Linked DNA regions of Homo sapiens. The protein of the gene in region 2 purifies or fractionates together with the protein of the main gene of each other region. This does not show direct contact. Each region holds a gene or a part of one and is shown on either strand. Other genes may lie near its edges. The genes, in order: SVIP and DMC1.

Evidence for each region.
Region 1: the proteins of DMC1 (region 2) and SVIP purify together in Homo sapiens (affinity purification with mass spectrometry; 2 studies listed by BioGRID and IntAct, with this or other methods). This does not show direct contact.

What each region holds. Positions count from the first base shown.
Region 1 is NC_000011.10:22,823,723-22,840,460, forward strand, and holds the start of SVIP (small VCP/p97-interacting protein), read right to left. Parts: upstream 6,080-16,738; 5' UTR 6,027-6,079; coding exon 5,973-6,026; intron 5,890-5,972; exon of another isoform or gene 5,633-5,889; coding exon of another isoform or gene 5,573-5,632; exon of another isoform or gene 5,535-5,572; intron 4,153-5,534; coding exon 4,102-4,152; intron 3,599-4,101; coding exon 3,485-3,598; intron 1-3,484. UniProt on the Homo sapiens protein: Negative regulator of the ER-associated degradation pathway (ERAD) of misfolded proteins. It competes with AMFR/gp78 for binding VCP/p97, and inhibits AMFR/gp78-VCP/p97 complex formation that is required for degradation of ERAD substrates.
Region 2 is NC_000022.11:38,554,759-38,571,259, forward strand, and holds the start of DMC1 (meiotic recombination protein DMC1/LIM15 homolog), read right to left. Parts: upstream 15,426-16,501; 5' UTR 15,285-15,425; intron 14,633-15,284; exon of another isoform or gene 14,317-14,632; intron 13,652-14,316; exon of another isoform or gene 13,532-13,651; 5' UTR 13,499-13,531; coding exon 13,448-13,498; intron 12,870-13,447; coding exon 12,825-12,869; intron 11,979-12,824; coding exon 11,832-11,978; intron 7,612-11,831; coding exon 7,529-7,611; intron 652-7,528; coding exon 599-651; intron 1-598. UniProt on the Homo sapiens protein: Participates in meiotic recombination, specifically in homologous strand assimilation, which is required for the resolution of meiotic double-strand breaks.

The DNA.
Region 1 (16,738 bases), on a different chromosome or scaffold from region 2:
TTTGGTTTTGTTTTGGGATTTTCTTGAGACAGGGTCTCACTCTATCGCCCAGGCTGGGGTGAGGTGGGAATGGCTCACTGCAGCCTTAACCTCGCAGGCTCAAGTCATTCTCCCACCTCAGCCTCCCGAAAAGCTAGGACCACAGGCACATGCCACCACACCTAATTTATTTTTTATTTTTGTAGAGACAGGGTCTCGCTATGTTGCCCAGGCTGGTCTCTTAACTCCTGACCTCAAGTGATCATCCCATCTTCTCAGCCTCCCAAAGCCTTCCTCTCACAGCTGAGATTACACGTGTGAGTGACTGTGCTCAGCCTCTTCATGCAAATGTTACATGCATGAGTATTCTGTCCACTGGACTCTGAAGTTGGTAACCACTGCACAGTGAACCTGCTATTCAGTAGCAAGAGCCTAAATATCCAATAATCAGTAAAGGAACACAAAATAAAACACAACAAAACAAAAATTTAAAAATTCTTGTTTGAGCCAGGGAGTCAAGAAATGGCAGAAACCATTAAAAAATGGTTTGGCAAGGTCTTTTCCTTCTTGAGTTAAGAAAATATTCCATTTGCCCCTTTGTTTAATGAAGTCTATTAAATCTGTGATAGGTCCTGAAGAGCCATTAGGATAGAACCAGAGATATTTGGCAATCTCTTGATAGTGTTTTCCAAGTACATCCAAGGAATATTATTGGGTGTTTTATATATATATATACACACACACATATATATATATATACACATATATATACGTATATATATATGTATATATATACGTATATATATACACACATATATATATAAAATCTATGTTTAAATAAATTTTCAACATTAAAGATTAATCCAAGTAAACTTGCTTTTCTTCATTGTACAATTTCTTAGAGGCCATAATTCTGTGCCTTTTTTAGTCTCTAAGAAGGGGATATAGTCTACAATATACAATTTAGCATTTTTAAACATTTATTCCCATGGGACTCTATCTTCCAAAACATCTCTCTTAGGACAAGTGTTATAAACGCTAGGATAGTGATTCTCAATCTGGGTTCACATTAGATTACCTTGGGAAGCTTAAAACAGTCCTGATGGCTAAACCCTACTCTCAGAGACTGACTGGTGTGAGGTGGAGCCCAATGAACAATCCTTTTTGAAAGCTGCCTATGAAACTCCAACATGCAGCTAAGGTGGAAAGCCATTGTACTAGAGGTCTACCCTTACTCCCGTGCTGCTATATCCTGTACTGATAGTACTTTGCATCCTGATGCCATCATCACATTGACTTCTTCAGGTAAGAAGTCAGAAGACAGCATTACCCATGCTAATTACCCTGGAAAGATGCAGCACTGGTCAGGAGATGAATAGGTGAAAGGCATGAAGACAGGGAATGCAAACTAGACTCATACTCTAGGTAGAGTCAGGTCAGAAAGACTCTACCTAGGGAAGAGTCTTCCTAACCTTCCTACCTTAGGAAGACTCTACCAATACTTCAGGCCAGCCCATGAAACAAGCCAGACAGCAGCCATTAAAGGACCATAGGCCAAGCGTTTTGAGGGTTAAGTACTTCTGCCTTGTATTTTTCCCTTCTGTTATCCCTGAGCCTTCCAGAATTTTTTCACTTCATGCTCTTGACATGTTGTGCATGTGTCAAGCAGAATGGAGCATGCCACTTGAAGCTAGTGTGGTAGTGGTAGGTGATGAGGAATATTCCAAGGAAAAATTACTCACAGTGGACAACAGCAGTGGCTAATGACAGTGAGCCACTGGAGAAAATCCTCCTGCCACTATATAGTTTCAAGGTCCTGAAGGTCATTTTTACTAAGTGAGTTTGAGAGATTTCTTACAAGAACAGTACACAAAGAAAAACAGAAACTAAATTTAACTTTGGGTATGTTTTACATTTTGAGCACTTTTGAATGGATTGTAAGTAATATAAGGCCTAAATTTTTTTTTTAATCTATAGACTTCAGAGTGTGGAAGCTTCAAGTTTAAGAAAGCCTCTTTCTTTATTATACTTTAAAAGCTGATGTTAATTTCATTAGGTTAGAACTTGTGAAGTGTCTTCTTAATTATGATTAAGTGTTGATTAAATTATCCTTTTCCTATAACATTACGTATGACTTTAACTTAATACCTTCACCACTTCTACTGTGAAATAGTGGATCTCATTATTTCCAGTCCTACAATTTAACTTTTGTAATTTTGTGTTTGTTTTTGACAACCCTATATGAAGTAAACCTAGTGAAACAGCACTTTATCTCAACAGAATATTGAGATATGATAAAGAATTGACCTCGTTATCACCCAACTGTTTTACTTTACACTAGACCTATTCTGTTCTATTATGGAATTATAAAAAACATAAGCAAAATGGTCAGACTTATTTACCTTATATTGAAACTAATTATATATTGCTAAAAGTTCACCATAAAAAAACTTCATAAATTTTCATTCGTTAAATGATATAAGATGAAGTAACGTACAATAGTAAAATACACAGACACACATTCTTATTTCTGTGATATTCTTGAGCCAGAATCAACTGCTCAGGGTGTTCATAAACTGCCTGCCCCACAAGTTACGAGAGTATCTACATGTAGGCAAGTGTATGTGTATATGTCCATGTATATGTATGTGCATGTGTGTGTGTGTGTAGTTTTGAGAGAAAAAAAACCAATAAATCTGTTGAAAGGTACTCATAAATCATTGACAAGTTAAATATAAATGACTGAAATTAAAGACATTGTCCTTTTCACAAATATACTACTATTTACTTTAAAAATGGACCAAGAATAAATTCTTAATATCTGAGCCATTATTTTCCTGAGCTTTAAGGGATTTTAAAAATAAATCCTTTAAAGTCCTGCTAGAGTGTAAAGACTCCAGCATTCAGAGACTCTGCTTAACTTGTCCACCATTATATTCCCAGTGTCTAGCTCTGGGATCCATATCTAGGGAGGTATGTGTATGATACCCACACCTGTATACATTCTGTAATCCAAATTAACATTTACATAACTATAATAAACAGGGGCAATGGAAAGATCAAAGATTCCAAATCAATGCGTAAAAGAGCTCAGGCCATAAAACAGAACTTATAGCGTAATCCAATTTAATAAGATATATAAATGAAGGTTAGAAATTATGTCTGTCAAAATGGTACTTAGTTTGGATGACTTTTACACTTCTTTATACTTCTCCATATTGCTTGAATTTTTGAATTATTTAAGATTAGTAGTAAGCATAAGAGTATTAAAATATATATAGTGTTAAAATAATAAATCTATTATTTCATTTTGGGGAAAAAAGCTAATTGATTCCAATAAATGTTAAAATAAATTGGTATTACTTCCAATATTTACTACTCATGCTTTTAAACTATTTCAAAATTTTCTGATAATACATTTCAGGAGAAAATTATGAATGGATTGCTACTTAAGTTTTTTTAAAATGCCAGTTAAGTTAATCACTAAGAAAATTTTAATACTTACCCTAAGTCCACCTTCTGGTGGGGGCCCGGATGTAGCAATTTGTTTTTCTATTTTTTCCTTTTTCTTTCTCTTTTCTTGCACAGATTGAACATCTAAAATTCCCCGAGATGCAGCCTTGAAGAAATTTGATAAGAAAAACAGAAAGACAACAAAAATCTGTCCAGTGTGCAAAACATTTTTTTGTCTATCTTTGCTTTCTAGGTTTTTCTTTGGGGGTAGGGAGTTGGTTTATTTTTGGTAACATAGAAGGAGTGTTTCTACAACAGCCTTACATAAAACATCATTTCTTCACTGGGTATTTTGTAACTATACAAATTTTCCCCTAAACTTGCTTCACATCTGTAAGTATTTTACAATGCACAGCCATTTTAAAAGGAAGGATGTTACTAAAAGAGTATCTGAATTTAGAGAAGATATGATAGTTTTCATATATTAATATAAATATATTAATGCAATTCATATAAATAAGGAAATCATTTTGAAAATAATTACATTTAAATGTAAATTTTTGGGATATCAAAGGCCATTTGCGTTAGAAAATCTAGCTATGGACATCTATGAAGAATAAAGTCCAAACTCAATTATCTAAGTAGGCAAAACTTGATCTTTAATCTTACCTCTTTTTGTCTTCTCTCTGCAGCCTCTGCAAGCTTTGCTCTTTTCTCTTCCTAAATAAATGTGTAAAAATATGTATTAAAATAACAAACATTATTATTAATAAATTATTCACATTTATTTCATAGGCACTATAACAATTTACAAAAATATTCGGTACTGGCCCTAAATGTCCCACAAAGAATGCCACTACTCAACTTTTTGAATTTCATTCTCCTAATCAATATGCCTTCAAATCAGCACATGCTAAAACAGATACAAGGTTTACCTATATAATCATTTATTTACTCTCTTTTTTAATAAAAAGGCCTACAAGCTAGTCAGGGCAATAACAAAACAAATAATGTTTACAAATACAAAAAGGAAAATACATGGTTTGTTACTGCCGGTTAAAATGGAGTCTGAAGTAACCTGGTGTTTTTAGGAAAGGTTAATAAATGAAGTGGGCTAATCTCAGTGTGTAGGAGGGAAGGACTGGAGTAATTTCATGAGAGGTATTGTTCCATATCAGAAAACAGTGAATGCTATTTTTCTAGACCATGTACTACTTATTATAAAGCCCTTTTTCTAGGTGCTGGGATACAACAGTGTAAAAACATAGATAAATGTCTCCTCCCAAATGAAACAAATTCCAATTGCGGGCGCACAGACAAATATAATGAAGTAAGTAAACGTCTGTCAGATGGCATGGCAGATAAGTAATGGGAGAATGGGTGGGTGGTATTGTGGGGAATATATTTTGTTTAACGTGGTCAGCAAAAGCTTCACTGGTAAAGTGACATCCAAGCAGTGAGCCGTGTGGTTATCAAGGGAAGAGGGTATAGTATGAGGATGGGGGGGAGGGCTTAACAAATCTGACATGTTATATTTTATCGACAGCCAGAACAACAAAATCAACTTAATTTAAAACAACAGCAGCAACAAAGAGAAGCTGAACTTTCCCACATCAAATTTATAAGTACTAAATTTTTAGTATCTATAGTAGCTGAAGAGTTAATGTACTTCCCAAAAATACTTCATTTTCTTCAACTAATTTTTAGCTAGAGAAGAGAAACAGGTTTATGTTAACTCCCTGTAAGGAGTACTAATGTAAAGATACTGTTAACAGAAAGCTACAAAAAGTGTACATGTATTGTACCACACACCCACTAGCTACATTTGAATTTCAGATAAGCAATGAGTAATGTTTTTGTAGAACTAGATCCCTAATATTGCATGGCACAAAACGATATTATAAACGTATTCCTTGTATATCTGAAATTCGAATGTAACTGGGTGTCCAGTATTTTTATTAAATACGACATTATAAATTGGACACTCTGTACTACATATTCTTTTAAAGGGAGAACGTAAAAGAATGAGATAAATACTAAAAAGAAATCATTAAAAAAACATATCCGATAAAGCTCAGGCGTATAAGCGACTTTCCGAGCACCTTCTTTTAAAAGATGGTAGACACAGTTGAAAACGCACATCTCCTAGACGACTAAAGAGCTCCCGGAGAAAGCAATGTCTTTTCGCGCCGAATTCCATCTACCACATCCCCCGGAATGTCCCACGCGTAACGCCCTCTGCGTGCGCCGGCGCCCTATGAAGATCCGGCGCAGCTAAAGTCAGTGGAAGGTAGAAAGACGCCACAGCCGCCTTTCGACAACTTTTTGTTACAAAAGTGGAGATCTACACGGAGGCGACGGCCTAGGTCGCTCTGACAGGACCCAACGACCCTCCTGACGCGTCCACCCGTCCTCGCTAGCAGGGTCCCCCAGCGGGCTCTCGACCTGCGCCACCAGGTACAATGGCTCGGCCCGCCCCGCAACCCGAGGACAGGTGCTCAAGGCGCGGCCCGGCGGACGCAGGGACCTGCTCTACTCACCAGGTCCGGCGTGGGAGGCGCGGACTCCCCGGGACAAGGAAAACACAGCCCCATAGGGACGACAGCTTGAGAACCCTGACCGGGTCCGGCCCAGGCCAGGCGGCGCTAACTGCGCGGTCCGGAGCCGGTCCCTGGTCCTCCGCGCTTGCCCCGCCCCCACCGCCCTCCACTGGCTCGGCTCCGCCCCAGCGGCAACGCCCCGCCCCCACCCCGCAGCTCTGCCCCGCCTCGCCTCTCTGCGGCAACGCCCCCCTCTTCTCGCGACACCAACCAGTCCCACAGCTCAGCTGCGCCCCCTTAAGGCATTGCCCCTTCCTCACCCACAGCTCCGCCTACCCCCGCCCCGCGACCGCTGGGCTTGTGGCCAAAGCCTAGGTTCCAGGAAACACCTGCTGTGGGTAGCAATGCAGGGAAGGGATGGAAAAGCTTCGCTACGGTTCCAAAGCTCTTCCTGCTAACCTTGCCTTACCATTTATAAATGAATGAGTGGTACAGCTCTGGGTAGTTCATGCTACCTTTTTTTATGAGATGGGACTCTGGTGTCCTAGAAATTAAAGCCAAAATTCCAAGTAAACATCAGCACCCTTTTCTCCCTTCTTAGTGACAGTGCTATTCCAGAACAGAGGGCAGAATATAAAATCCATTATTATGACGATGAATCTAGCGTCATAAATGTGGCATTAGTTGACATTTCCACTAGTTTCTGGTATTTAGAAGTCATTTATCCTTCCGAGAGAAATAATAAAGTTTCATCTACTGAGAAATGTTTTAATGATTCTCCTCAAATTTTAATAAGTATGAGAATCAGCTGGGCAACTAGTTAAAATTTACTTGCTGATTTAGTAAGTATAAGGTGGGACCTGAGATTCATTTCCAGTAAACCCACAGGTGATACTAAAGTTACTGATCTCGTCTCCACACAAATGCTTTTATTTTATTTTATTTTATTTTTGCATTCTATTAGTTATTTCTGCTTATGTAAAAATTTTCAAACATTACAAAAAGGTAGGATGTATAGTGACAGCGTCTCAGAAACCATTGTCGGCTTTTTGATATACTTGCTGGTTAATTTTTTATAGATGTATAATTTACATATAATATTATGCACTTATTTTGATTGTAGAGTTCACTGAGTTTTAACAAACATGTGATCACCACATTCAAGATATGTAAGTTTTCCATCACCCAAAAACCTTCTATTGTACCCAATCCCATTCAATACTTTATCCTATACCTAGATCCAGGAAACTATTAATTTGTTTAATATCACTTTAGTCTTTAAGTTTTGCATAAATGTTAATATCACTATAGTCTTTAAGTTTTACATAAATGAAATATACAATATGTTTTGCAAAAGCCATAATATTTTCTAAATTCTTCCATGTTATTGAATGAAACAGTAGTTTATTCCTTAAATAATAGGGGATGATGCTTTTTTAATACTATTATTCGATTGCATGGGCCGTTTCTAAGGGTAAATAAAAATATATAAAGAAAAAGTGAAGGTTCTCTGTTGCAAAAAGAGAAAGATAACTACCCACCTCCTCTTTAGCATTGTGTTTAGAAAACGTGAAATTGTAAGCGCTATCTCTGTCTCACTGAAATGTATGAAAAAAAAAAAAAGGCCAGGCATGGTGGCTTACTCCTGTACTTTTGGAGGCCAAGGTGGGTGGATCACCTGAGGTCAGGAGTTTAAGACCAGCCTGACCAACGTGGGGAAACCCTTTCTCTATTAAAAATACAAAACTTCGCCAGGCATGGTGGTGGGCGCCTGTAATCCCAGCTACTCCGGAGGCTGAGCAGGGAGAATCGTTTGAACCCGGGAGGCGGAGGTTGCAGTGAGCCGAGCTCGCGCCACTGCACTCCAGCCTGCACAACAGAGAGAGATTGCGTCGAAAGAAAAGAAAGAGAGGAGGGGAGGGGAGGGGAGGGGAGGGCAGGGGAGGCTAAATAAGCCTCTTGCCAGTTTTGCATCAGAAAGAAAGAACCTAAATAAGCCTCTTGCCAGTTTTGTATCCTCAGAATATCTTTGGAGGCCTATTGGCTTTCTCTTAGAAATGAAAACATCCCAGAGTGGCACCTGTCTCCCCGTCTTCATGGTAGTTTACTGTCTAGGCACTTGGCTTCAAGATGGAGCTTTCTGCTTGTCAAGAGATACAAGTGTTATTCTTTCCTTTAGATTTCTTTTAGATAAAAACAATTAACATGTGTGTAGTGGACTGTATCTGACAGGCTATATAAAAATGGTGAAGAATGTTTTCATTGCAAACTCTTTAGTAGATTGCTTCTGATAGAAATCACAATCGATTTAATGCTTATTCAATGATAAAACTGTTTCTTTTCTGCATTTGTGGAGAGTTTCCTGCATTGGCAGATTTTGTTTTTAATTATTATCAAAACACTTTCCATGACATAATTATTTCCCCAACACTTTCCATGGTTTATTGATTTTTATTTTTAATAAACATTATTGAGATATAAAATACAATTAACACATCTACTTTAGGTGTACAGTAGTGCCTTCCATTCCTGGTTTTGATAAAGTTTCAGTTTATTTATTCAACATTAATATCACTATAATCTGTAAGTTTTACATAAATGAAATATACAATATATGTTTTGCACATGTATTGTCAACTGCATGGTCAACTGAGGTCCAAAAATATTAAATGGAAAATTCCAGAAATAATTTGTAAATTATAAATTGCTTGCCTTCTAAGTATCTGATCAAATCTTAGGCTGTCCTAATCCATCACACACAGGATGTGAATGATGTGAATCATCCCTTTGTACAGCGTATCCACAGTGTCTAAGCCACCCCGCCCATTAGTCACTTAGTAGCTATCTCAGTTGTCACATTAACTGTTGGTATTACAGTGCTGGTGTTCAAATAACCCTTATTTTACATATTAATGACCCAAAGTGCAAAATTAGTGATAATGGCATATTGTTATAATTGTTTTATTATTAGTTGTTAATCTGTTACTGCACCTAATTTATAAATTAAACTTTATCATGGGTATTACGTATAGAAAAAAACAGTGCAGATACAGTCACTGACCAAGATGGCCTAATGTTTCCTGCTGCCTGACTAACCTTTAGACAGGGTTCTTCCTGATTGTTGGCCTCTGACCTCCCTATTTTTAGACCATTCACTTTAAAAAAAACTTGCAAAGTGTACATTTTCTCTGCTCCTTTAAGATGTAAATCTTCTGGCCTCTTATCAGTTCTACAATGCAGAACCATCTTTCTCAAAAACCTGGGTGTCATCTCTTTGAAATTCAATAATTAAGAAAGGTAGAACCTTTTTTTATCTCCTAATCTCTGTGGGAGAGTAGGAGCCTGACTTCCCTAAGCACCAATCAGCAAACACAGATGGTCTAACCCTATTGACCAACATACAGTACTTTTCCACTTAGGGACTTCTGTGCTTAAAATCTCTCCTGCTTTTTTTTTCAGTGGCATTGAGCCCTCTTTCTGTGCCTTATTACAGTGGTCTTAAATAAAGTCTTTTGTTGCTGTTTAACTCTGTCAGGTGCAAATTGTCTTGGATATTAGTTGAGTTTTTGACAATTATATGTGCTCTTGTAAACACCATAAGAAGGTATACAACATTTCCATTACTCTAAAAGTTTTCCTTGTGCCACTTTCCAAACAATCCCCCATTGACCTCTAGCCCACGACAAATATTGATTTGCTTTCTGTCTCTATTAATTAACTACACACTTTCTAAAATTTCATAGAAATGGAAATATATCGTAAGTGCTTCTTTTGTCTGGCTCTGCTCCTTCTACATAAAGTTTCTGAAATTCATCAGTGTTACTGTGTCTGCTTCTTAATATTACATTGTTATAAGTATGCTACATTTAAAAAGTTAATTTACCAGGGGGCACAGTGGCTCTTGCCTGTAGTATCAGCTATTCAGGAGGCTGAAGACGTAGGATCACTCAAGCCCAGGAGGTTGAGACCAGCCTGGGCAACATGGGGAGACCCCATCTCTACAAAACATAACAAAAAATAGCTGAGCACAGTGGTGTGTGCCTGTAGTCTCAGTGACTGGGGAGGCTGAGGGTGGAGAAACACATGAGCCCAAGGAAGTCGAATGGAGAGACCTCATCTCTACAAAAAATACAAAAAATAGCTGAGCACGGTGGTGTGTGCCTGTAGTCCCAGTGACTGGGGAGGCTGAGGGTGGAGAAACACATGAGCCCAAGGAAGTCGAGGCTGGAGTGAACCATGATTGCACCACTGCACTCCAGCCCGGGCAATGGAGTGAGACCCCATCTCAAAACAAACAAACAATAACAACAACCCCCCAAAACCCCCAAAATGTCAATTTACCTATTCATGGATGTATGGGCTCCTTTGAGTCTTTTCAGGCCATTATGAACAAAGCTCCGTGAATATTTGTGTGCAGTTATTTGTGTGAAGTTTTTTTTGTCTTGACTACCTAAAAATGGAATAACTTATTTATATTTTACATGTATGGAAATGAGGACTGAACTCTTAATTTTTTTATCTTGCCCAAATCCCTATCTAAGGGGTCTGGGGAGTCATGCCCTACAAATCATAAATTCTCATCAGATGGATTTTATTTAACCCCGTATATCATGATTTACTTTCCAACCTAACTCTGGCATAACATTACAAGACAAAGAAGAAAATTAAAATATGTTACCCAAAAACATGTTTCTTTGCCATATTTTGAAATGACCCTCCAAAGCGTTTCTTTGTGGGGGAAAATGTGCAGCTGTAAAGAATCTCTATTAACATACCTAGATTTTTTTCTTCCAGACCCTCCCAATCCTAAAGAGATTAACTAAGAGCTGAATAGGAAACATTGGGCACCTGTTGCCTCTAAGGGCAGCCACTATAAGACTTCAAAAGAACTTTGGTCTCCACAATCTTTATCTGAACCTGAACATTCCCTTTCTATCTATCCCAGGTCTTCAGACAAACTCAACCAATTGTCAACCAGAAAAATGTTTAAATTTACCTATAGCCTGGAAGCTCCTGCTTTGAGTTGTTCTGCCTTTCTGGACCAAACCAATGTACTTCTTAAATGTATTTGATTGATGTCTCATGCTCTCTAAAATGCATAAAACCAAGCTGCGCTGAACCACCTCGGGTTCTCAGGACTTGCTGAGGGCTGTGTCACGGGCCATGGTCACTCATATTTGGCTCAGAATAAATCTCTTCAAATATTTTACAGAGTTCCACTCTTTTTGTCGACAATAATATGGCGCCCAAACACGTGGGGCCTCAGAGAAGACTCTGGATCCGGAAGGAGTATCCCAAAACCAGAGCTAAGGTACCAGCTGGAGCCCACTGAAGCCTCACCGAGTTTGGGCTTCTCCTCCTGTGGAACTGGTAAGTCCTCCTGAGCCTCGGACCTCCTGTTTTGGTTGATAGTCCTTGATGTATTCTGAGCTGTTTTATTCTCCTAGGAATTTGTTGCTTTAGGATCCCAATTCGAGTTCAAAGATGCATTTCTAAAGGGTCTCCTCAATTGCTTTTCTCTCAGAATTAATCTCAATTTGGCTTGTTTGTGCATATTTGAGTGAGGAACTGAACTGTCATTTTCATCCACGACTCATCAGTTCCTCCTTTAAAAAAAAAAAAAAAAAAAAAAGTAGGGGCCGGGCGCGGTGGCTCACGCCTGTAATCCCAGCTCTTTGGGAGGCCGAGGCTTGTGGATCACGAGGTCAGGAGATCGAGACCATCCTGGCTAACACGGTGAAACCCCGTCTCTACTAAAAATACAAAAAATTAGCCGGGCGTCATGGCGGGTGCCTGTAGTCCCAGCTAGTTGCGAGGCTGAGGCGGGAGAATGGCGTGAACCCGGGAGGCGGAGCTTGCAGTGAGCCGAGATCGCGCCACTGTGCTCCAGCCTGGGCGACAGAGCAAGACTCCGTCTCAAAAAAAAAAAAAAAGTAGGAAAGAAATTAACTAAGAATATGGAAAAAAAAACAAGGAGAATGACCCCCTTTTGAGCACACCGTAGGTTTTGTGGCACCTCTACTTTCCAGAGTTTATGGAAAATGGAAGTAATATAGTCTTTGTGTACATTTTACTTTAAGGAAAAAGGTGCCTAAGGTCGACCTGCAAACTATAGAGTTCCTAAGTTCTCTTTCTCTATTTTCTGCCTGCTTTAAATCTGGTGTTACTTTCATACTGAGATAAAAAACCACTGTTTGGATCTAACCGTTTTTTTGCAAACCGGCAAATTTATATTCATCTCATGGCCAAAGTACTAAAGTAAATCTATAGGATCTTTGTGTGTGTACGTATATGTATGTATATATGTGTGTATGTATTTGAAGGCCTTCATAAATTCTATAATTTTATGTTTAATTGGAAGTTACATTCATTTTAATTTTCCTTTAGCGTACCAAACTTTTTCTTTTTGTACCTTATTACGTAAATTTTGCTATCTGATTGTCACCTGGGTTGTTTCCTTTAATATGCAAATTTATGTCTATTTAGCTGAAAACTGCTTAGGGTGGTGCAACATGTTATCGAGAATTTGAAAATCTAAAATTGAAAAAAAAAAAAAGGAAAAGGAAGTCTTTATGAATCTATAAAATGTACCTCTATCGGCATGCCTAGATATGTCCATGTATTTATGTTATGCAGTGTTTCACTGCTAAAATATATATATGTAAAGAGTTCCAATTAATTGGCTAAAAAAATAGGTAAAAGTGCTTAAATCAGAGACTTAAAAAAGAAAAGACTAGTCAAATATTTTTTCAGGTTCACATGACTTAAGTAAAATCTTTAATAAATAAGATGGCTTTAAAACTATTGGTAAAATAATATCAACAATGTTAGCATTTTGTTTGCATTTATTGATCAAGTAGTTTCATGTTTATTCCTGCCTAGTGGGCCAGATAATGCCATTGTAAGTTCTCTTTGCCCTGAGAAGGGTTGACTGCCCCACTCTTCCTATAAAATACCAAGTGAAGTACACCAGATGAAGCAGTTAATATGTTTCATATGCAAGCCATGTTGGACTAGCTTTATAACTGGGATATCCTCCTGCCAAATATGCATATTACCTAGGTCATGGTAAATTTGGGGGTTAGGGGACCCCCTTTACGTGGGTGCTCCTCTGACAGAATGACAGGACTATTTAAGTAGACTTATCAAATCTGCGGTCCCTCATAGGTCTTATAGATGTAACTCCCTGCTGGGAAACCAAATCCTTTTCACCAGAAAAGGTAAAATGGTCTGGGGGTAAAAAAGGGTTCCTGAGACCTGAACATAAAAACATACAGTTTAATAGAATTATAAAATTTAAGATGTTTAAACAAGCTTTATGTAAGGTAGTTGTAACCCCCTTTTACCAAAAAGTCTTATGAAAATGGGTACTGTATCTAACTGGGGGTTGTTTTTCTCTTTTCTAGTACTATAAAAACTGAAGACATATAAATCGGCTCTTTAGGAAATGTTATTTAAACATTTATTAAATTTATTTATTTAAAAATGTTATTTAAACACACTAAATAGGAACTAGTAAAAGCCCACAAAATATAGGGTAAAGCTTTCCTTTGCTGCATAGCCCTTTATGTGGAGCTTTTATCGGGGCTGATGGAAAAAACTGTGAGTACCTTTCAATGACAATGACCGAACTAGAGAATTTCTACTTGATAGGGCATTTACTGCCTTGCTATGAGATATTAACTGAAGCTACCCCTATGCTAATGGAAATTATGTTTCCCAAAAGAGTCCTATGATAAAATAAAAATGGCTTACACAAAATCTTGCTACTTAATAAGCAGAGAGCCTCTTTTCTAGGACTAATTGTGAGGAGCTGCTAAATTCTACAGTGCCTAATAGTTCTCATTAGCTGTTTGGTTTGTAAATGGCATTTCCCAGGTAAACAAACACTTGTTTTAAAAGCTGCGGCTCTGGTTAAAGAAGGGTCAAAAAAAAAAAAATCTTTTAAGTTATTTGGATAAAGTACATTTTTGTAAGCAAACTTACCTTTCTGAGTCCTCCAAAATTCAGATTGAATTTTATGACAATATAGTTGTCTGCCTAAGTTCAATTATAGTTTTTTTTTTCTTCAAACAATTGGAGACACTGGTTATTTTACCAAGACTGAAACTAAAATATTCTATTTTTAGGTAAACTTTCAGCAAAACCAACTCGAAAGGAGTCTATATGGCCAATCAATTCTTGCTGCATTTTATGCAGCTATTCAGGCAAGCATAATAAGCCTAAAACTTACCTTGCACGCAAATTGGCCTTGCTATAACTTTTTGTTTAATAAAAAGGGCAGCTAGAAAAAATGTTTCAAGGGTAAAGCGTAACACTTAATACTAGATTTCAGCCCTAACTTTTTGAGTACAGATTAAATCATTATTTCTTGGCTACAAGAATCCTCTAGAAAGCACCAAGTTATAATTTTTCTTCATATTTTTAGTTGGTACCCTAATGTAATAGGTTCCTTTTTCTATTCTGATCTATGAATTACTCCTATAATTGTCAAACTATAAATGTTAATTATCTCTCCTTGTTTTACATCCAAGGAAACCAAAATCATGGTATTTTGAAAACCAGAGGTATGAATCTCCCTCGTTTGGCATCCCACTGGGCCTGGACCTGTTTCACTGCTAATGTTCTGCTGCCAAAACTATACAAGCTGCCTGGACTATTGCAGAAGAGGTGGGTGCATAAGATTGTAAGGACCGGCTTTCAGGGAAAAAATTAGCTTAAGGTCAAACCCTCCAAATCAAGAAAGGGGGTACAAAAATGCCTAAACAGCAGGTAAAACAAGTTTAGTTGCCTTCTAAGCTATTATGTGTCACTTTTGCATCCACCCCAACCATAAAAATTTTCTGCTTACTATAGAATTAAAGGAAATTCTTTACTAACAGGATAAAAATATTTTGTAACAAAGCCTCCTGGGTATAATACTACCAATCATGAGTTGTGAAGATCGATCGATCTATCTATCTATCTATCTATCTATCTATCTATGTAACTATATTTTTCAGAAGAATGCTTATGTTTGGTATATAAGGCTAACTGTTACAAGTCTGTAACAAAAACCAAGCTCACAGTAGCTCAACACATAGAAGTTAAAAATAAGTCCGTCTTTTAACTTTTGTTTTGTTTTGTTTTGTTGTTGGCTTTTTTACTTAAAATAATAATTTTACGAAGTAACAAGTGCCTGTCCACATCCATTCCTATATGGCTTAGAACAATTAATTGGCTATATGTCCTTTGTCTCTTAAGGCCCTTGGCCATAGGGAGTCCTGCCAAGGGACAAAAACAACAACAACAACAACAACAACAAAAACACAAAAAACCACTGTAGAATTATTTGACTTCTCCTGTGACAAAACTTCCTCTTCTCTCCCAAATACCAGTCAGTATATGGTGCAATACAAAAATGGTAGGAAAAATAGATTTGTCTACTGTTAACAAGTTTATAACAATTTAGACACTGAGGACCAGGCATTCCTTGCATTTGATTTATACCCTTCTCAGGATGTTATACCTATGGAGATAAATTGGCCAGAAGAGAGACTATTTATTAAAATCTTCAAATAAGATTTATCATAAGGTTCAAATGACCCTGGATAAGGAGGGTAAACACATTGTGAGTCTGATCAAAGCATATGATGGTGCATGTAGTGACGTTTTTGGCTGCTTAGGTTGTTTACTGTCCTCTGACTCTACCTATAACATGTTTGGATGCCTACTTTCACTATCTTTATGATATTTTATGTTATGAAGGCAGCTCCTTTCCTTAAACCTCATGAATCATCCTCTACTACCTTTTAACTTTTCTTTTGCAGCTACCTCACCTCTCTTAGCTTTCTTAGAATTGATGAGTTAGGACCTTGCTCTGGATAGGCTTTGGTGTAAAGGAATATTGTTGCTTGTTTGGTCTTCTATCCAGACCACTAAAACCTTTTCTGTATCAGCAATAAGACTGGTTCACTTTCTTATCATTTGTGTCTTCACCGAAGTAGCACTTTTAATTTCCTTTAAAACCTTTGCATTCACAACTTGGCTTATTCTTTGGTGCAAGAGGCATAGCTTTTGACCTTTGTAATCTTTCACAATGCCTTCCTCACTAAGATTAATAATTTTTTTTATTTTTGATTTAAAGTGAGTCATTAGCTTTTTATTTCATGTGAATACTTAGAAACCATTGTAGGGATATTAATTGGTCTAATTTCAATATTGTTTTCTCTCAGTTAATAGGAAGGTTGTGAAAAGAGGGAGTGAGATTGAGGAATGGCTGGTCAGTAGGGCAGTCAACACATACATTTATTGATTAAATTCATCATCTTAAGTGGGTATGGTTCATGGCACCTGAAAACATTTATAACAGTATTATGAAAGATCATTGATTGCAGGTCACCATAACTAATATAATGAAGAAGTTTGAAATATTGTGAGAATTATCAGAATGTGACACAGAGACAAGAGGTGAGCACATGCTCTTGGGAAAATGGTGTTGATAGACTTACTTGATGCAAGGTTCCCACAGACCTTCAATTTGTAACAAAAACAATATCTGCTAGGCACAATAAAGTGAAGCACAATAAATGAGGTATGCCTATATGAACAATTATAGGTTAAAAATAAAAGGATTGAATAATAGTGTGCAAACATGAATCTTAAAAAATGTGAAATGAGTATATTACTAGAACATATAATAGTCCAGAATAAATCATATTATCAGGTATACAGATGAACACGTATAATAAAAAGGTCAGTTTATCACAAAGGCATAATAATCATAA
Region 2 (16,501 bases):
AAATCAGCCTCATTATTCAATTACCTTTTGAACAAATAAGTGAAAAAAAATCTATTATCAGCTGGGCGCAGTGGCTCACGCCTGTAATCCCAGCACTTTGGAAGGCCGAGGTCAGGAGATCAAGACCATCCTGGCTAACATGGTGAAACCCCGTCTCCACTAAAAATACAAAAAAATTAGCTGGGAGTGGTGGCAGGCGCCTGTAGTCCCAGCTACTCGGGAGGCTGAGGCAGGAGAATGGCGTGAACCCGGGAGGCAGAGCTTGCAGGAAGCCGAGATTGCGCCACTGCACTCCAGCCTGGACCTGGGTGACACAGCGAGACTCCGTCTCAAAAAAAAAAAAAAAAATCTATTATCTTCTATAGGAATCACAAATAAAAGATGAAAAGTGTTGATAAGACCCATCTGTTAATGTTCATATATATTTTCGTTGCAGTACAGAATGATCTCATGTTATGATAATTGAGATTTTGTAAGTTCCAAAATACTTACAATTTATTATTGGTTGTTTATTTAATTATATGTGTATGTATACACATAGATGTGTATGTGTGTGTGTATAATATTTCATTTAACAAAATATTAAGGTTCTACCTACCTCCAAAAGCTTCTGTAATTGCCATACTTTCAATTCCACCTCCTAGTAACTTACTGGAAATAGAAAGAAAGCATTAGTAACAGGAATAGAAATAGAAATATTAAGAGAGGAGAAAGTATTCATATCATTAGTATCCTTCCTATCTATGTATCTATCTATCTATTCTATCATCTACCTATCTATCTACAGAACATGAACAGCAATTCTTGGCTGAACAAATAGCATGCCACTTGCTAGATCACAGGTTCTATTGTGTATGGGCAAGTGGATCAGCAAAACAAATGATAAGCCCTATCGTTCTTACTTCAATAGTAAATGGAACCTGGGAATACTGCATGCTGTAGGCTTAAAAAATAATAATAATAAATTATTTTAAGAAAAAACTTAAAAAAATAGTAAATGGGTTAGCAAGGCCTTATGTCTTACTAGTCTTTAGAATTGAATTGGAGTTACAGATCGTCTTAATTATTATTATTATTATTTTTTTTTTTTCGAGATGGAGTCTTGCTCTGTCGCCCAGGCTGGAATGCAGTGGCGTGATCTTGGCTCACTGCAGCCTCCGCCTACCAGGTTCAAGAGATTCTCCTGCCTCAGCCTCACGAGTAGCTGGGATTACAGGTGCCTGCCACCACGCCAGGCTAATTTTTGTATTTTTAGTAGAAATGGGGTTTCACCATATTGGCCAGGTTGGTCTCGAACTCCTGACCTCAGGTGATCCGCCTGCCTTGGCTTCCCAAAGTGCTGGGATTACAGGCATAAGCCACCATGCCCAGCCCATCTTAGTTATTAATTGGGTATTTAATATTGTGCTGGAACTATGTTTCTATAGTCAATTGAATTTTCAATGTTTTTTCTTTTTCTTTTTTGAGACAGAATCTTGTTCTGTCACCTGACACAGGGCTAATTTTTTATTTTTTGTATGGCTGGGGTCTTGCTATGTTGCCCAGGCTGGTCTCAAACTCCTGAGGCTCAAGAGATCTGCCCACCTTGGCCTTCCAAAGTGCTGGGATTATAGACATGAGCCATCATGCCCGGCTTCAGTTTTTAATATACTGAAAAACATATGAAAAACAGGTATTAGGAAAATCCAGTGATTGTCATTATGGTCAGGTTATCTCACATAAACCAAATATTATGGAGGACATGTCAGAATAGTAAATGTCAAAGATGTTGTAGGTAATGCTAGCAGTTAGAAGAGTAACTGTCAGATTCTGACAGCATACATTTAATTGGTAGCCCAATGTTGTAGTGCATTTAAAGCTCTGAATAAGAAAAGGCCTAAATTTAAGTCATGATCTCATTCATTCATTAAATGCAACACATATTAATTGTGTTAATTGTGCTAAGACCTGGTAGGGGCACTTTAAAAACCTTGTATGTAGTCTATTAACATGATTTTTTGGGATGTGATCACAGGTCAGACAAAAATTTAAGATATATAGATAATCCAATACATTTACATTTACATAGTTTAAGAGAGCAATTTAAATGTAAATTGAAACAATGTTGGAAGTTATCCACAAATTTAGTGAGGGCTGCAGACTTCAATAAGGAAAAGAAAAATCTAGATAGTGTACCTGCACAACTTAAATCTAAAGGACATGGGCTAAGCGATCAACCCATTTGGAGGGAATACACTTGGAAATCTTATAGGCCCAGCAACTATTTTTTTCTTCAACTTTTATTTTAAATTCAGGGGTACATGTGCCAGATATGCAGGTTTGTTACATAGGTAAACGTGTGCCATGGTGGTTGGGCTAGCAACTATTAAAGAAAGCTTTATTTGTCCCTCTTCTTCCTGAGAAAAATTACCCTGGAAAGCTATACCTCTGGAAAATCCCAGACAAAATTCCTGGTTGATATGTAATCTCAATCAGCTGAAAAGGTAACCCCAAAATTTACCTGTGAGGATACCCCAAATTATTTGGGATAGCACAATTGTTTCCTTTTTGAGACTCAGGAAAATTTAGAATTAAGTGTAGAAATAGTGTTTTTAAATATAGGGAGATTTAAAAATAGAGACACAAATCAAACCCATAGATTACTATTTTCATATTAAATTTGGCAATATGGGCATGGTGGCTCATGTCTGTAATCTTAGCACTTTGGGAGGCCGAGGGAGGTGGATCGCTCGAGCCTGGGAGTTCAAGACCAGCCTGGATAACATGGCGAAACCCAGTCTCTACAGAAAATACCAAAATTAGCCAGGTATGCTGGCCTGTGCCTGCAGTCCCATCTACTCAGGCTGCAGTGAGCCGTGATGGAGCCACTGCATTTTAGCCTGGGTGACAGAGTGAGACCGTGTCTCAAAAAATAAAATAGAATATAAATAAATAAATTTGGTAATAACCTGTGCATATTTGCTATTTGAGACCTTTTAACGTTTAAGATAATTTGACCTTTTTGTAATGGATTGGCCTCTGACTGATTAAATGGTACATTCCTTCAATTTTCAAGTTGATAACTAATTTTATAAATAGTATTTGAACATTTAATGGTGCCTACAACTCACTATACTTCTAAATTTATTTGAGTTACAAAAGATATTTAGGTAATTGGGAAGATTTTGCTGTTAATAATTAGATAATTAGACAAAGTTCTTTTTTTTTTTTTTTTTTTTTTTTGAGACGGAGTCTCACTCTGTCGCCCAGGCTGGAATGCAGTGGCGTGATCTTGGCTCACTGCAACCTCTGCCTCCTGGATTCAAGCAATTCTCTGCATCAGCCTCCTGAGTAGCTGGGATTACAGGCACCCGCCACCATGCCCGGCTAATTTTTGTATTTTTAGTAGAGACAGGGTGATCCTGTCTTTAGTAGAGACCTTGTGATCCACCCGCCTCAGCCTCCCAAAGTGTTGGGATTACAGGTGTGAGCCAGTGCACCTGGCCAACAAATAAAGTTCTTAAAGAAAATACAATACACTAAATGTATAAACATAATTAAAATGTTTAAGAGAATTTAATCTTGTTATAAAAGCACCCTTAAAATGTGCTAGATTTATAAAGGGACTTAAAGCTTAAGGAAAAATGTATAATATTTTAATTAATTAAATATTAATTTTTAAAAACCTAGCTCCTGGCTGGGCGCAGTGGCTCACATCTGTAATCCCAGTACTTTGGGAGGCCGAGGCAAGTGGATCATCTGAGGTCAGGAGTTCGAGGCCAGCCTGGCCAACATGGTGAAACTCTGTCTCTACTAAAAATACAAAAATTAGCCCGGTGTGGTGGCACACACCTGTAGTCCCAGCTACTCAGGAGGCTGAGGCAGGAGAATTGCTTGAACCCAGGAGGCGGAGGTTGCAGTGAGCCGAGATCATGCCACTGCACTCCAGCCTGGGCGACACAGCAAGACTCTGTCTCAAAAGCAAACAAACAACAAAAAAAAACCTAGCTCCTGAATGATCTTTTCTGTTCTCAAGAGCAAACATCAAGGGCACCAGAAAACTCACAATAACAGTAATTATTTCTTTAGCCCAGTGGTTCTTAGACCACCATGTGGTAGAGTAACTAAAGAAAATCAGATTGTCATTTGAATCAAGTGTTTTGTTGATCAACCTCATTTTGACCAATTTGCCTAGGGGTAGGATTTCTCCAAGCCTCTTCCTTAACTTTACTTGAAAAAAGGGTATGTGATTTTAAAAGTCTGGGACAATGCTGGGTTAAACAGGTATTTTCTTTTTCTTTTTTTCTTTTGAGACTGAGTCTCACTCTATTGCCCAGGCTGGAGTGCAGTGGCACGATCTCGGCTCACCACAACCTCCATCTCCCAGGTTCAAGCGATTCTCCTGCCTCAGCCTCCCGAGTAGCTGTGACCACAGGCACATGCCACCATGCCCGGCTAATTTTTTGTATTTTTAGTAGAGACGGGGTTTCTCCATGTTGGTTAGGCTGGTCTCGAACTCCTGATCTCAAGTGATCCACCCGCCTCGGCCTCCCAAAACGCTGGGATTAAAGGTGTGAGCCACCGTGCCCAGCCATTTTTTTGGTAATTTTTAGTAGAGACAGGGTTTCACCATGTTGGCCAGGCTGGTCTAGAACTCCTGACCTAAGGTGATCCACCCATCTTGGCCTCCCGAAGTGCTGTGATTACAGGTGTGGGCCACCGTGCCCTGCCAAAACAGGTGTTTTGTGTCACTGCAGGATTTCACAGGCTAGTGTGCGCTGTGACTCTTCAAGAAGAATATATAGTATATGGTACTTCTCAAACTTATTCACTATTTGTTTATTCATTCATTTAGTCATTCAACAAATATTTATTGCACACCTAGTTTATGCCAGGGATTGTTTTGTGCACTTGGGATAAACTAGAGAACAAAAGAGACAGAATTTTTTTCTCTCACGAAGTTTACAATCTAGTGAGAGATTAGATAATAAACACAAATAGGCCAGGCGCCGGTAGCTCACACCTGTAATCCCAGCACTTTGGGAGGCTGAAGCGGTGGATCATGGGATCAGGAGTTCAAGACCAGCCTGGCCAAGATGCTGAAACCCTGTCTCTACTAAAAGTACAAAAATTAGCCGGGCGTGGTGGCGGGCACCTGTAATCCCAGCTACTCGGGAGGCTGAGGCAGGTGAATCGCTTGAACCTGGGCAGCAGAGGTTGCAGTGAGCTGAGATCATGCCACTGCACTCCAGCCTGGGTGACAGAGCAAGACTCCGTCTGAAAAAAAAAATAAATAAATAAAATAAAAAATAAACACAAATAAGTAAAATATGTAGTACATCAGATGTTATTAAATGGTATGGATAAAAATAAGGCCAGGAAAGGGGACAAGGAAGACAGAGTATGAAAGTTAGGAGGTTATACTGTCAAATAAAGTGATCAGAGAAGTTCTCATTGAGACATGGACATTTTTGCCAAGACCTGAAAGAGATGACAGCAAGCCATGTAGATCTAAGAGGAAAGAATATGATAGGCAGAGGCAGCACAAAGTGCAAAGGCCCTGATGCAGGAGTGTATCTGACATATTCTGGGAATAGCAAAGAGGTCACTATGGCTGGTACATAGAAAACTAGAAAAGTGAAATATTAGAGATGGGAGAGGACTTTGGCTTCTTTTCTGAGTGAGAGGGGGAATCATCAGGGTGTTATGAGCCACTGCATTCCAGCCTAACCTATGTTTTAAAGTGACCATTCTGGCTCTTTAGTGAATTAAAAAAAAAAACAAAACAGTAGGGGCAAGGTCTCAAGGAGGGAGGTTAATTAGAGGTTATTATAATAATCCAGGGGAGATATTAATAGGTGGTAGTTTAGTCCAGTGAGGTAACAGTAGAGGTGGTAAGAAATAGTTGAATTATATTCTCACTCTCTATGTACACACACACATATACACATAAAAATAACATATATTATATATTAATCTTTTATTATAGAAAATATCAAGCATAAACAAATGTAGAAAAAAAATAATGAACCATCGTGTCTATCACTCAGCTTCAACAATCGTCAACTATGAACTCAGGGTAAATCTTTTTTCATATAGACCACTAACCATTTACCTCCCTTCCCATATTATTTTAAGCATATACTAAGCAACATATCATTTCATTATAAATATTTCAGTATGTATCCCTAAAAGATGAAGATGAAGACTCTCATCTTTAACAACCATATTCCCACTATCACACTTAAATTTAGTAATTCCTTAATTTTTTTTTTTCAGACAAGGTTTCTCTCTGCGTCACCCAGGCTAGAGTGCAGTGGCATGATCGCGGCTCACTAGAGCCTCAACCTCAACCTCCTGGGCTCTAGCAATCCTTCTATCTCACTCAGACTGCTGAGTAGCTAGAACTACAGGTGTGCACCATCACACCCAGCTAATTAATTTTTTTTTTTTTTTGTAGAGACAAGGTCTCAGTTTGCCGTTAGGATGATCTCAAGAGATCCCCTCCCCACCTCCAGCCTTGGCCTCCCAAGGTGCTGGGATTACAGGTGTCACCCACTGCACCCGGCCAGGTGATATGTCTTTTAAATCTCTTTAATCTATAGGTCTTCTCCCTGACTCCATCTCTTTTTTCCTCCTTGTAATTTATTTGTTGAGGAAACTGGGAGGTTTGTTCTGACTAAATATATTTTGAAATTAGAACAGACAGGATTTATTAATGGGTTAGAGTTAGGGTGTGTGAGAGAAAAAAGATGTCAAGGATAACACCCAGGTTTTAGGTCAGAGGATCAGGAAAGAGATAGATCTAAGATGAGGGAGACTTTGGGAGAAGCAGATTTGGGGCAAAGGTCAGAAGTTTGATTTTTGGACCTGTGAAGTCTGAGCTATCAATTAGACGTTCAAGTGGAGGTATATTTGACTATGAAATCCTTTTTTTCTTAATGTATCTTGTGAGGCCAGCATTTTGAGAAATACTTAGAGGAAATACTGCTTTTGTTCTAAATGCTCTTGGGCACTGCTGTAACACATGAAACACTAATTCTTTCTAGTAAGGTAGGGAGAAAAAACCCACATTTTAGTAAACTTGCATTGAGAAGATGATGATATGTCTTGGGGATCATAAAAGAGTAAATAAAAAGGGATGTTAAAACTTCTCCTGCAGAAGAGCAAAAATAACTGCAATATTTCTGAAATATTTAATCTAACAATTGCTTTTTGAGTAAACCCAAAATGTGCAATGAAACATCCTTCATATGGAGAAGGAAAGTAAATGAAAAGTTAAACTGATTTTTAAAAGTGGTTTGAGATTAATATTGGCTGATTCAGAAACTAGATTTTGGGTCTGAATTTCTTGTAAGACATTTAATCTTGCTCCTCCAAGCAGTCTAGAATTTGTTTCAGTTATCATTTAGAAAAAAAAACAAACAAACCCAAACTTCAAATGAAGAAGCTACTTCTACTACTTATAGTAGAAGTAACCAGAAAGAGGAAAAGAAACATGGTATTCCAAAGATTATGCTTAGTGATTATAAAAAAGTAAGATACATACTCAAATTCCTGGCTCCCGGTGGTGATATGGAAAACCATTTTCCTCTTTTCACTATACTCAAATGCAGTCAAGAATCCTGGTTCCTACAGAAAGATAAAAGGAAATGTTCAAAAAGAGTTTAAAGATCATGGTTGTATTTTCAAATGTTGCCCAAAATGATATACTCAGTTATTAAGATCATCATTTGGTATAAGCTACAGTTCACTTGTCCTTGAAGGCAGTACAAGATTATGGTTAGGAACACAGGCTTTAGAGCTGCCCTTTCTAGGTTCAAATCATGTCTCTAATAGTTATTAGTTCTATGATATGGAGTAAACTACTTAATCTTGCTATACATCAGCTTCCTCTTTTGGGTCAAACATGCAACAGTGTTTCTTCAAGGAGTAGCTGTGAAAATTAAATTATATATATATACACACACACACATATGTATACACACATATACATGTACACATATATACACACGTTATATACACATATATACATATATGTGTATACATATACATATATACACATATACATATACATATATACACACATATATACATATACACATATATATACACATATTCCTGGATTCAAGTGATTCTCCTGCCTCAGCCTCCCAAGTAGCTGGGATTACAGGCACTTGCCACCATGCCCGGCTAATTTTTTGTATTTTTAGTAGAGATGGGATTTCACAATGTTGGCCAGGATGGTCTCAAACTCCTGACCTCAGGTGATCCACCTGCCTTGGCCTCCCAAAGTGCTGGGATTACAGGCGTGAGCCACCGTGCCCAGCCAAATGAGATATAATTATGGCATAAAGCAGAGGGTATTTTACTAACAATTCACTTTTTTTCATTCAACAGCATCATTTTTTTTCCAGCTGTAGAAGTTTCAAGGGGCACAGAAATTCCAGTTTTCATTATTCTTGAGACAACATTTTTCACATGGTAGATATACTACTTATTGACTGATTAAAAAGGTACAGCTGATGCAGTGGAGGACTAGTGAAAATGGGCCCCAATGTAGTCTAATGGGTGTCCCTCTTTGTTGTTTTATACTATGACTGTGGTTCTTAAACTTTGGAGAACTTGGAGAATGGGGACAGCCAAGCCCAGGTCCTATCCTACTTGAGTGAGCCAAGTCTGGGCTTCTGTTTTCTTTATTAGCCACACCAGGTGATTCTGATACACATCAGTGTTTAGAACCACCGTATTATGAAATTAACTTCCTTTCTTTCTCTCCTCTCTCTCTGTCTCTCTCTCTCTCTCAATCACTTTCTCTATCTCTAAGAATAAACAACTGGGTGCAGTAGCTCACACCTGTAATCCCAGCACTTTGAGAGGCTGAGGCGGGAGGACTGCTTGATGCCAGCAGTTCAAGACCAGCCTGGCCAATATAGTAAGACCACCCCTCCCCCATCTCCACAAATTTTTTTTTTTTTTTGAGATGGAGTCTCGCTCTGTCGCCCAGGCTGGAGTGCAGTGGCGCGATCTCAGCTCACTGCAAGCTCCACCTCCTGGGTTCACGCCATTCTCCTGACTCAGCCTCCCGAGTAGCTGGGACTACAGGCGCCTGCCACCACACCCGGCTAATATTTTTGTATTTTTAGTAGAGACAGGGTTTCACTGTGTTAGCCAGGATGGTCTCGATCTCCTGACCTCATGATCCGCCTGCCTCGGCCTCCCAAAGTGCTGGGATTACAGGCGTGAGCCACCAGGCCCGGCCTCCACAAAAATTTTTAAAAATTAGCTGGACATGGTAGCATATGCCTGTAGTCCTAGCTACTGAGGAGGCTGAGGTGGGAGGATCGCTTGAGCCTGGGAGGTCAAGGCCACAGTGAACTGTGATTGAGCCACTGTACTCCAGCCAGGGTGATAGAGTGAGACCTTGTCTCAAAAATAAATGAATAAATAAAACTGGGCACAGTGGCATATTCCTGTAGTCCCATGTACTTCAGAAGCAGAGGCAGGAGGATCACTTGAACCCAGGAGTTCAAGCCCAGACTGGGCAACATAGTGAGATACCCTTCTCTCTCTCTCTTTTTTTTTCTTTTGAGACAGAGTCTCGCTGTGTCACCCAGGCTGGAGCGTAGTGGCGTGATCTTGCCTCACTGCAACCTCTGCCTCTCAGTTTCAAGTGATTCTCCTGTCTCAGCCTCCCAAGTAGCTGGGACTACAGGCACCTGCCACCATGCCTGGCTAATTTTTGTATTTTTAGTAGAGACAGGGTTTCACTATGTTGGCCACTATGTTGGTCTTGAACTCCTGACCTCATGATCCGCCCGCCTCAGCCTCCCAAAGTGCTGGGATTACAGGCGTAAGCCACTGCACCTGGCCTGATACCCGTCTCTTAAAAAATACAAATAAAAAAGAATAAACAGTTTAAGCTAAGAAAGGAGAAGATTCTTGGTGCAGTAGTGGGTGCTTGAGAAAGAGAGAGGTTCTTTTCTTTGGTAATAAGATTTAATTTCCAAAGAAAACAACTCTAATGTCATAGAGCAGTTTCCCAAACCCTGAGTACTGCTCCAGGGCTTTCTTCAACACCCTGGCAGTTGTGGAATTGACTTGTGGGTACACTGCCTGAGTGTACTCAGAAGCTAGAGCAACTGAGCTGGGTTCAGAGTGATTCAGTTCGGTTGAGTCCCCTCCAAGTTCAGGATCACACTGCCACTTGCATCACTCTCCTGCCTTGGCTGCCTCTGAAGAAGGAAACCAAATGGCCGTTGGTGAAGAGAGCTTCTCAGACTCACTGGGAATGAGACCCTCACATACCAATAGAGAAATGGAGAGGCCTGCTATTAAATGAAGAGGAAGACTTAGTGACTACCTTTCTTTGCTTTCCTATTTCAAGAGCTGGTACCTCTAGTGATTCCCAAAAGCTCTACATAAAAGCTTGGGTCAAAGGTATATAGGCTTTTGTCTGGCAGCCTGGCAGTTGCAAAGGCCCCTCACAGTCAGTGGGCCCTGCTAGAAAGTAGTAAGGTAGGAGAGGGGATTTGACTCCAGAGGTGGGGCTCAGACACCAGACCAAATTGAGAACTAGCTAAAACAGGGTCCAGGGCAGAAGCAACTTTCCATAAGACATGGCCCACCAATGTGCCATGTCAGTTTACCATTGCTATGGCAACACCTGGAAGTTACTGCCCCTTTCCATTGCAATGACCCAATGACCCAGAAATTACCACTTTTTCTAGAAATTTATGCATAAACTGCCCCTTAATTTGCACGTAATTAAAAGTGGGTATAACTATAATGGCAAAACTGCCTCTGAGCTGCTACTTCTGGGCATACTGCCTATGAGGTAGCCCTGCTCTGCAAGGAGCAGTACCTCTGCTGCACTGTACTGGGCTGCTTCAACAAAAGTTGCTGTCCAACACCACTGGCTCACCTTTGGGCAAAGCCAAGAACCCTCCCAGGTTAAGCCTCAATTTGGGGGCTCACCTGCCCTGCATCAGTATGGGTTAGCTTAGCTCAGCTGCTTCAGTGAGCACATGCTTGGTCATATCTATCTCAACTGCACATATGTAGACCCAACCACTGTTGGTCTTTTTCTAATCCAGTGCTCTCTTATCAATTGGCTATATCAATTGGCTATATATCAATCTCCTATACCAGGAGAGAGCAACTTCTTTGGTACTCAGTGCTTCACAACAGCCATAGGTATGATATTTGAGGAGACAAGACAAAACTGAGGAGGAGAAAGGTAAAAAATAAAAATGAAGGCCGAGCATGGTGGCTCATGCCTGTAATCCCAGCACTTTGGGAGGCCAGGGCAGGCAGATCACGAGGTCAGGAAATTGAGACCATCTTGGCCAACATGGTGAAACCTCGTCTCTACTAAAAATACAAAATTAGCTGGGCGTGGTGCTGTGTGCCTGTAGTCCCAGCTACTCAGGAGGCTGAGGCAGGAGACTCGCTTGAACCCCGGAGGTGGAGGTTGCAGTGAGCTGAGATCACGCCACTGCACTCTGGCCTGGCGACAGAGCAAGACTCTGTCTCAGAAAAAAAAAAAAAAAAGGAAAGGAGAAGGAAAGGCAGAGACAGCCAGAAAAAGTAATATAAAGAGAGACAAAAAGTTTTGGCAAAAATAATTACCTTCATTAGTGTTCCAGGTCTCTTAATCCCTACCTTCATCTTTCAGAAATCAATTGCTGTTGCTTTGAAACTGAAGTGATAAAAAGTTAACATGGGGAGTATAATATACTGTGATCTACAGGAACTCAGTTCCCACAATAATTTCTAGTTTTCATGAGAAAGCCTATAAAGATTCACAAGGCCCTGCCAAGCTAAAACAGCAAAGAATGGATTTTGCTTACAATTAGTTTGTTCGCTGCCTCTTTAATCTTGTCTACTTTGGCTTCTGAGAGTCCTTTGACATTGCATAGAGCTCTTCTTGTTGTCATCTGTATACCTTTGATGGTACAGATTCCTACTGATTTCAGTTTCTTAATGTCAGCCACGTTCTGTAAATTAAAGAATGGGCACAGCAGACTGATAAGATGCCAGCCTGCAAGGCTCCCATACTATGTCATGTGTTTCTGTGTCCATCTCCTTCCACCATGATGCCAATTTTATACAAGCTGCCAGGTGGAACCCACCCACCATGTAGCCAAATGTTCTGGAAATATCTGAGTAGAACATACTCAGCAGGCTGCCAAATGTTCTGACTGTGCCCTGATTTCCCAAGAATGTTAGTGAGACCATGGCAATGTAACAAGGAATTCAAAAGAAAAGCCTGTTGGTGGAAAAGCTAACAAATTTATCACACATTCACCCCCTCAGTTCAGCTCCTTCCTTCTACAGAACTTCATTACCAACATGTTCTTTTAAATTTGTAAAGATTTTTTTTTTCCTCTGCCCCTGGAGAATGCAAATAACTACATCACCAAAGGACCAGGATTTTCTCTTGCTTCTATTTTCTAAAACCACTGAAAGAGATTAAATGTTAGGGCTACAACAGATAATGTCAGCACAGTTTTACTATCAACTGATTGCTGTTGAAATCCACCCAGGTCATTATTCAAAGGCTGGATTTCTGCCAACATCATTTATTCCAGTCGCCTGACATATAGAACTTAATTTTGTCCTCTGGATACACTTGACAATGTCTGGAGACATTTTGATTGTCACAGCTGCAGGGGTGCTACTGACATGCAGTGAGTGAGTAGAGGCCAAGGATGTTGCAAACACCCTACAATGCACAGGACGTCCCCTTGCAACAAAGAATTATCCAGGCCCAAATGTCCATAAGGTTGATGCTGAGAAATCCTGAATCAGACAATTTAACACAGCATTGAAAAACTACTTACAATTCCATGTTTCTGTAACAGGTCAATATCTTGAAACAAAGATTCCTAAAGGAGATGAAACAGAAAAAATGAAGTTTTGATTCTTCATATCCAGCTATTTCACATCTTTTAAAGAGGTAATTCAATACTATGAGTCACTCCAAAATGCCTCAAATTCCGCTTCTCTAGAGATTGAGGAAGGATCAATACCGTTTTTCAAACACAGAAGAAGCACCAACATTGAAAGGGCTGGGAAGCCAGTTACCTTTGTCATGTCCTCCCTAAAATTTTAAAACCTTTACCCAAAGGACTGGAACAACATTTGAACTATTTTAAATATGTTTTCTCAACCCTCTTCCCCTCCAGATCCTAAACTCCTTCCTCTAGGACCAGGCTGCTATTCGGTACCCGTGTGTGTAGGTACCAGTATGGCCATACCAGCTGTTAAGTCATTAAAATACTTTCATACCAGTTGCTAAGTAGCTAATCTTAGCATCCTTGCCAAACAAGTTGTTACATATTTGCAATATATAACTATGTGTTATTTCTACTTTCAGCTTCTAAAAATAGTAGCTAACAGGGAAGGAACTTGATTTTTGCGGAATGATCGAATGTCTATATATCTTTCAACATTTTAGTCATACCTCTTCATCTTGGAATCCTGGTTCTTCCGCCACAACTTGATCCTCCTTCATATTGAAAAGTGGGCAACAGAAAAATAATCACTTCTGGGAAAATAAGAAATATTATGTAAGAAGTAGTCCTTTGTCCAGGGGCCTCTGATTTCATTTCAAAGTCAACAAGGACTAGAAGGACAGTAAGAGAAGCATTTAGCTTGGAAAGATGAGGCCAGCCTATCTTCTTTCTGCGAGACATGTGACATTATTTCTTGTGTGTGTGTGTGTGTGTGTGCATGTGTGTGTGTGTCCCCACATGCACACAGATGCCTGAGGGGCAAATTGGGGGGTGCTTATTTAGTTTCTTCTCTTTCCCCAACAGTGATCACTTATCATCTGGTTTCCATTGCACAGCTAATCATGACTTTATTACTGCCTTGAATGTTATTTAGAATTGCATATTGCTTTTAACCTTTCTTGTTTATGTTTAACAACAATACTCTAGGAACCTTGACATTATATCATTCTTCCTTGTGTCCTCCCTGACACCTCCAACTTTGTCCTCAATAAATGGATTCTATTTTTCTCATCTATGATGAATGCCTTCCTGCCTGCTGATTATGAATGGGTACTCCTGTAACATCCACCTTTTTGTTTCATAGAACATTAGCTATACTTTCTTTCACAGTATTTACTAGTTTCATGATTTTTTTAAGATTTAAAAATATGGTGGTCCGGGTGTGGAGGCTCATGCCTGTAATCCCAGCACTTTGGGAGGCCGAGACAGGCAGATCACGAGGTCAGGAGTTCGAGACCAGCCTGGCCAATCCCCGTCTCTACTAAAAATACAAAAAAATTAGCCGGGCGTGGTGGTGGGCGCCCGTAATCCCACCTACTTGGGAGGCTGAGGCAGGAGAATCGCTTGAACCTGGGAGGCGGAGGTTGCACTGAGCCGAGATCATGCCACTGCACTCCAGCCTGGGCGACAGTGCGAGACTCAGTCTCAAAAAAAAAAAAAAAAATTGGTGGATCATAATATTATATTAAGGCTGATAAGCAGTTAAAGTTTTTAACATTGTAGACTCAAAAAGAAATCTCAGGAATCCACAAGGCGTGATTGTGTTTATTTATTACAATAAAATGCGGTCCAAATCATCATTTTTCTTGGTCGATTCCATTTCCTCATTTGATACCAAAGTCAGGGGTTGGACCCTAGAACAAAGGGAACGAACCATTAATACTAAGGCAGGAGCAGGGTCCTACCACCCAGCACCTCAAACGGCAAAGGATGGAAGGCAACCGAGACCGTTCGGATGGGATCTTCGGGGACACTGTCCTTCAGATGGCTAGCTATGAGTACCCCAATTCCACATTTACTGTCCCCATCGAAGAGAAAAACAGCATTCATTTCTTCTCCCCGTGATGAAATGAAAAGATTGTCCCCCATCTCTCAAGGAGCCGTTGATAGACTGAACCGTTGGATTGAAAGTAGGGCTCCCCAATCCCCCGGTTTAAGACGACCCAGCTGTCCCCTCTGGTGGGGGCAGCAGCGCGGTCGGGTCGCCCTCGACGCCTCCCTCAGCAGGAGGCCTGGGCAGACCCCCTGCGGCCGCCGGACATTTTCCTGACACCGGATTCCCTGGTCAGGAGGATGAGGCGGGCTCTCCTAGACTCAGGTCCGATTCGATTGAAAATGAGGTTGGAAATCCCTCAAGATCACTAAAATTCCTCCCCAAAGGTCGGAGCGGAACGCTCAAAGTCACTAGCCCAGGGACCCCAAAAAAGGAGCGAGAAAGGGAAGCGCGCCTTCTCAAAACGAGCGTCCCCTCAGAGTCTTCGCACGCTGTTCGTTTTTGCCACTTACCCCCCTCGTACCCACAGTCTCCCCGAGATTTTCAAGGTGAAGCCCCTCTGCCCCGCCCGACCTCCTCAGCTGACAGGATTCTAACTCGGGCCTAGAACACGGAGCCTGGAGACCCGCGCGCCGTTGACCACAGGGTTTGGCGCCAAACGAGGAGGGCGGGGCGAGGACCAAGGGGCCGGGGCGGGGCGCAGGGTGAGGGTGGAAGGGCGGGGAGGGAGCAGGCCTACAGAGGGCGACGAGGGGCGGGGAGCAATGGGGGCGGGGCGAAGACCGAAGGGCGGGGAACGAGCGGGCTCACAGGTGGGGGGACCAGAGGGCGTGGCCTGGAGGGGGCTCAGGGCGAGGGGGCGGGGCGAGGGCTGAGGCGCGGAAAACGAAGAGGAGCCCCAGCGGGTGGCGAGCTGGGATGACGGAGGGAGGGAGGGAGGGGCGCTGTGGAAGGAGCGCGCTGAGGAGCGGGGCCTTGAAGGGAGACCGTTGAGCTGGGGCGTCCCTCGAGCTGAGCACCTCGCTAAAGTCCGGGAGAAGACCCTGAGGCGGGGTTCTGAGGAGGTAGCCTTGAGTCGGGGGAGGGGCGATGAGCAGAGGTGGCTGACTTTGGCGATAGGTCTTGGTCGCGAGGGTTGCAGATGGAGCCTTGGCTTAGAAGGTCGAATCCGGGCCCGTTTCCCCCCGCCCCCGCTGCCCATGGCTTCTCTTTTCACCTCCAGGTTTTCATGCTGGCTTCAGAGTTTGGCCGTGCTCCCTCAGCGTTCCTAATTTCCCACTTTCTGACTCTCACCATTTGCCACTCTTGTCTGTGATTGAGACACCCGAGGCCCATTCAGGATGGAGAGTAATTTTTTCTCTGTCTTAACTTGAAGTTTTAAATAGACCACAGACGCCAAGTATATTTTGGTTCAGCTTTTAAATAGAAGTCGCAGGCCAGCCTTCGTGCCAGCAGCGCCATCGCTGGCAGCATCCTCCTCCTCCCCTCACGCGGAGACTGACTTGGGGAGAGTCAGGAAACATTTGAGAGAGCAGCTGCCGAGGTGGAGGCTGTGATGTATCTTGGATGAATCTCTGTGCAAACAGTTCTTTGGGTTCAAGACCTAGTACAGGGCGATCCTTTTTGTTTTTTCTGTCTGAATCATTTTGGTGGAATAAATAGCAAAACATTCCCACAATAGCAGTTGGCATTTTGTGTAGGACGCACCCCCCCAACAGGTGGATTGTTT